Linked DNA regions of Homo sapiens: region 1 is linked to region 2. The links come from fine-mapping of genetic effects on gene expression. A gene starts in region 2. The other region holds a variant in brackets. All regions are shown on one strand. Distances are from middle to middle. Region 1 overlaps SCAMP2 (secretory carrier membrane protein 2). Region 2 holds the start of MPI (mannose phosphate isomerase).

The links. PIP is the estimated chance that this variant, and not a neighbour inherited with it, causes the effect.
Region 1: its variant is the best candidate, but not a certain one, in a credible set for the expression of MPI in whole blood (TOPMed, PIP 0.90).

Annotation. Positions count from the first base shown.
Region 1 is chr15:74,851,397-74,854,296 of GRCh38, reverse strand. It overlaps SCAMP2 (secretory carrier membrane protein 2), which reads left to right. Exons shown (of 9, transcript NM_005697.5): 3 at 178-276; 4 at 2,111-2,228; 5 at 2,816-2,900. Among named protein-coding and RNA genes, the nearest start is that of ULK3, 9.7 kb to the right of the region's middle. The variant C/T (reference allele first, on the strand shown) is at 1,806.
Region 2 is chr15:74,888,211-74,891,110 of GRCh38, reverse strand. MPI (mannose phosphate isomerase) reads right to left here and starts at 1,069. Exons shown (of 8, transcript NM_002435.3): 1 at 1,022-1,069; 2 at 457-584. The coding sequence starts at 1,037. RefSeq lists enhancers at 743-822, 620-1,153, 943-1,242, 1,403-1,452.

The sequences.
Region 1 (2,900 bases), 37 kb after region 2:
CAGATGGCCTGAACCTGAGGCTTGTTGGCTGGGAAGCCACAGGGGAAGGCCCAGTGCAGGCCCCGAGGGAGTCCCCTCACAGGCAGGGGCACATCACTCATCCTGCTGTGGGTTTGCCCCCTCGTCACCAGCTAATGGAGTCCCACTCAATTCTGTCTTTTGATTTGTTCCATGTAGACAAATGCAGCGACAACAGTTCCTGTCACCCAACTCCCTGGGTCCTCACAGCCAGCGGTTCTCCAGCCATCAGTGGAACCAACCCAGCCGACCCCCCAGGTAGTGCTGACAAAGAACTCTGGCCTTTTCTCTCCAGTGAGGGAATCATCCAGACCAGTAGCTGAGCCCTGAGGCTGGGGGCAAGCAGAGAGCTTTCAGCCTTGGCCCCCTAAGGGCCCTCTTGCTAATTTGTTCGGAGCTGGTCACCTACAAGTAGAGGGGCTGCTCTGCCAATTAATATCCTTACTCCCTCCATCCCACCCACCACCACCACTGAGAAATAAGCTCTACTCACCAGGCCGGGCTCCTCGGTGCCTCCAGAGAGGGCATTTGTCCCTGTTGTACCCCTCCAGGTCCTCCTCGGGCCTTTGGCTTGTTCTCTCTTCCTTGGGGCCCAGAATCTCTCTCTTTTTTTTAACTTCATTAATTCTCACCTTCCTTCCTGTCTTCCTTTGTCCCTTCACCAAATACTGTGAATCTTGCCTGCTTTGTGCCTGGTGCTCCACTGCGCCGCCTCACTGCCCTCCCGCTGCACCCCTCGCTGCCCCTATGAGCGTGACCCATGGTGGAGTTGTGTGTTGCAGCTCCTGCTTAGACAGGCCAGCAAGTTCCCGCCTGCCCAATTCCTGGCAGTGAGCGAGCTCTCAGAGAGGCAGATGCTCCTAGGAGGAGAAAGTATTCTCAGAGACAGCTACATGCGAAAGCTTCCGAAGGTAGGCCTAATGTAGATGAGCAGGAGGAAGGGCAGGGCACCCGGAGCCTGCCCCACACCCCTCCCAGGCCCCAGAGCCCTGTGGAGGTGAGGCAGGCCTTACATGCGGAGTTGCCTTTCTGTGCAGCTGGGTGGTGGGCTGTAGGGAGCTGGGTCCTTCTCAGCTGGCGTCACAGACTTGGAGGAGGTCAAGACCCCCAGCGTGGCACAGCGGGGTCAGTTCTGCTCCTGCTTCCGCCCCCAGTGCCTGAAACTTGGCTCTCCACGTCAGCCTTAGGTCTTTGAAGAGCTTTTGGAGAGGTTGGTGTGTGTATACATGTGTGTGTGTACACATGTGCCTGGTTTGTCATCCTGTGAAATGACCAGTTTGAGATCTCTCCCTAAAAAGGACTGTAGTCTCATCCTTCAGGAGGAACCTGGCCCAAATGGCAGCAGCTGCCAGCAGGTGCAGGGCCCCGGGGCCAGGTCTGTTCAGCCTCACATACAGTCAGTCCCTTACTGTTACTCAGAGGCTCTACCCCGCCTGGAGAGGAGATAAGTGTGGACTCTGCATGCCACTAAAGCCAGGCAGGGCAGGGCCACACCTAAGGGGCTGTCCTGGGGTGTAGCCAATTGCAGTTTAGGGGGACCTCAGGAGGCAGCTCCTGGGGGCAGGCCATGGGGCAGGGTGCTTGTACAGATCCTGAGGCTCAGGCACACGCCATCTGCCTTCACGTGTCTCCCCTTTCCACTCACTGTTAGCAGGCTTGCACTGTTTTCCTTCTCACACATCCACCAGGCTCTTCAAATGAGGCTTGGGTCTGTGGGTTTCTTATTATAGTTTAGTTTCTTGTGAGGTCTTTTTCCCAAAGGTCACAATCACTGAGCGCTGCCTTGA[C/T]CCAGTATGGGGAAGAGGTGGAGAAGCCAATGGGGGTAGTTTTCCCAACTCAAGCTTAGGGATGAGGGGAGAGGACAGCTTAGTCATGGCCAAGGGGTCAGGAAGGTGTGGGGGCAGTGGAAGACAGGTTGGCCTCTCTAAGGTGGTCTCTGGTACCTAAGACACTCTGTGGGGCGGGGACTGCTTCTGGGACTCCTTGATGGCTGTCCCTGCCTGGGGCAAGGCCTCTCTGCCTGCCTACCCAGGCTGACACTGTTTCTGTTTGTTGTGTCTGGCTGTCCCTGTACCTCCCCTGTTCTCTCCAGGCCGTGGTGTCTGCAGCCCAGGCAGGCCTGCTCCGGCAGCAGGAAGAACTGGACAGGAAAGCTGCCGAGCTGGAACGCAAGGAGCGGGAGCTGCAGAACACTGTAGCCAACTTGCATGGTAAGGGAGGCTGCTGGGGCCTGGGGCTGCCCTGCCTGGCATAGAAGAGTGTCCTGAAACCTGTGCGGAGGGCCTCCCAGCATTCACCCTGAGCTGCCTTAGAGTTTTGTGGGGCTCTTCTCATCACAGGATGCTGGTCCTGGGAAGAGCAGTAAGTTGCAAGTCAGGAGACCTGCAGTGTAGTTGTAATGGCTGTAGATTACTTCTGCACTCCTTCCTAGCTCTCAAATTCCTTGATTCTTTGATAGCATAGGGGCTTTGGTCCCACAATTCCTTGCTAATGATGATGAACTGAGTTCTCACACTTATGGGCTGCTTGTTAATAAAAATAATCACTTAGGCCATTTAGCTGTCTGTATTTCCCAGTGCATTTGGGGTCTTTTATCTCCATGTGAGCTTGTTGGTATCTCTTTGGGTTCCATTATCCTGTTCTGTCCCACTCCATGCTCCATGCAGACTCCAAGCCCCGCTTGCTGGAGCCCCTCTGGGAACCCTGGTTTGGCCCATACACTATGCTGGCGTGCATGCACCTTGATGCCCCTTCTGAGGCTGGGCCCTTACCTCGTCACTCTTTTTGCCCTACCCAGTGAGACAGAACAACTGGCCCCCTCTGCCCTCGTGGTGCCCTGTGAAGCCCTGCTTCTATCAGGATTTCTCCACAGAGATCCCTGC
Region 2 (2,900 bases):
GGAGAATGACATCTGCACTGTCAAGGTAGCAGAAAAACTATGACTCTTAAATGATTCTTTCAGGGGTTAACATACATCTTCCAGTTTCAGAAGCAGAGGCGAAAGCCTTCCTATGCTTTGGCTTTTTCTCCACTAAATAGGCAGGAGAAATATTTTAGGTTAATAAAAATGCAAAAAAATAGTCAAAGTAAAAAAACTTAATTGTCAAAGAGGGCTGAATTAAAATTCACTAAGTGCTAAGAGTGGTTGGGGGAAGGAGAGTGCTGGAAATCCCAGCCTATTATGACAAAACCTCTCTTCTTTTTGATAACACTATCTAGTCCATTAGCCTGAAGAGCCAAGTGGGTCTCCTCCCTCCTTGCTGCCTCACCCTTCCCAGCTGATTCTTATGACTTGCCTCAGGCCCTTTCTCCTGACCTGCGGGTAAAGTGGGCTGAAATACAGCCCGGGGCTCACCTCTGCATAAGGCTTGTCCTCTGCGATCTGGGCCAGTGGATCACTGCTGGCCAACAGCCGCGCCACTTCGCTGTTGGAACCCATCTTCCCCCAGGCATACTGCTGCACCGCACAGGAAAGTGGGAATACTAGGGGCACAGACAGGGTCAGCTGCCACTCCACTCCTCAGGCCCCACCCTAGTGTCCCGGGAAACCAGGCAAGAGCTGGGGGTGCTCACTGGGGACAGAGTCAAATAAGGGTTTTGTAGGCTGTTGGATGAGACCCCCCTCCGCTGCAGGCCTCGATGTTCCCAACTGTCAGATGGGCAGCAGTAAGGACCTTGTGCTGATCTGAGGCAGGGTGGCGGGGAGGGAGCAGAAGGTACCTATCCCACGGCACGACGTCTAGAAGGGCCCCCTCCCCTCGGAGGTCAATCCCCATCGCAGGTGGCCACACCTCTGCCCGGCACCCACCCATCTTTCCGCGGAATGCCAGGAGCGGACTCAACCTGGCCGATAATGCCGGGAGTCGTCCCCAGGACGCGCTCCACGAACACACTCGCCGACACCCCAGCCAATGGCTCACCTCGCGGAGCGGCCATGCTCGCCCCCTGCACCAGGATTAAGCACGTATGCCTTTCCCGGCAGCCCCCGCGGCCCTCTGCGCCCAGAGCTTCACGGGAAATGTAGTTCCCTGAGCGTTCCGCCAGGCCCCGGGGCACCCGTGCCCAGAGGCTTACGGCCGCGATCTTCGGTCTCACTATTCATTCATTCTTTCCATCGCCGGGCACAGATGTACTGAAAACCTGCTAAGTACCACGGACTGTTCTAAGGGCTGGAGGATACATCAGAGAGCAAGATAGCCTTCCCTCTGCCTTTGTAGAGCGCTTACATTCTGGTGAAGGCAAGACAGACAAGTATTGTAAGCAAATCATGTAGTATGTTGAAAGGTCAAGGCCACAAAAAGTAAGGGGGCAGGTGGCAGTGGGAGGCAGTTTGCAGAATATAAAAGGCTGTCTGGGCAAGCCTCTTGAGGAGGTGAGGTTTGAGTCCAGACTTGGCGGTGAGGAAGGCAGGAGTGTTCTGCGGGGAGGAAACAGCCACAGCGGAAGCCAGAGCAAGGCGGGAATGTGGGACTGTGCCGGGCGTGTTGGGGAGGGAACTGCTAGCAAGGAGGCCACTGTGGCTGGAGCAGAGTGAGTAAGACAGGGGCAGTGAGGAGGTCAGAGAAGAGAGGAGGGGGGCAGAGCTTTGCAGGCTATTGCTATTGTGAAGACTTTGGGTTTTACTTCGAGTCTCAGCAATTACAGATTTGAGCAAAGAATTGCTGTGATGTGAGTAGGGACATACTAGTGATGATGATGGTAAATGTCACATGCAAGGCCCTTCACTGCTCTGAGCTTTGTAGAATGGGGTGAATAATGCCAGCCTGACATGCTTGTTGGAGGGTCAGATGGGATGACGTGAGACACCTATAAGGCAGTCAGCTCCCTGTGCTCCTCTGATCCTTCCCGTCCCAGGTGCTGTAGAAAGTCAGAACCCCAACTTCTACTCCAGGCTGAGCTGCTTACAAGTTGCACACACAGAAGTCAGGGGAATTACGAAGAGCTGTGCATAGGGAAGGATGGCCTTGGGCCTTGGCTCTGCAGTAATCTTGGCTATATCCTGTGGTGAAAGGCTTTGACATCCAGACCTTCTCAGTCAACAGCCTCCTAGGAGGAGGACAGTCAGTGGCTCAGGCCTGTAATCCTAGCACCTTAGGAGGCAGAGGCAGAAGGATTGCTTGAGGCTAGGAGCACAACAGTCAAAGCTCCGGGGAACCTGGAATGAGGAGTTACAGTCCTGACTCTACCCTCATCACCCCTGCAATACCCTCATTCCCACAGCCTCTACCATATGTGCCCAGGGGAAAGAGCGGGTGCCGTTTTCCCTGTAATCCTCTGCCCAGGTGTGGGTATCTATCTCACCTCCCCTGGGGTCCTCTGGCTCAAATAAATCAGCTTGCATTTTAAAGGAAGCTTTACCATGCACTAAGGAATAATAAAATGGATAATACAAGACTCATGACAGCCCCCCGCCTGGCCAGCCGCCCCGTCCGGGAGGGAGGTGGGGGGGTCAGCCCCCAGCCCGGCCAGCCGCCCCGTCCGGGAGGTGAGGGGCGCCTCTGCCCGGCCGCCCCTACTGGGAAGTGAGGAGCCCCTCTGCCCAGCCAGCTGCCCCGTCCGGGAGGGAGGTAGGGGGGTCAGCCCCCCGCCCGGCCAGCCACCCCGTCCGGGAGGTGAGGGGCGCCTCTGCCCGGCCGCCCCTACTGGGAAGTGAGGAGCCCCTCTGCCCGGCCACCACCCCGTCTGGGAGGTGTACCCAACAGCTCATTGAGAACGGGCCATGATGACAATGGCAGTTCTGTGGAATAGAAAGGGGGGAAAGGTGGGGGAAAGATTGAGAAATCGGATGGTTGCCGTGTC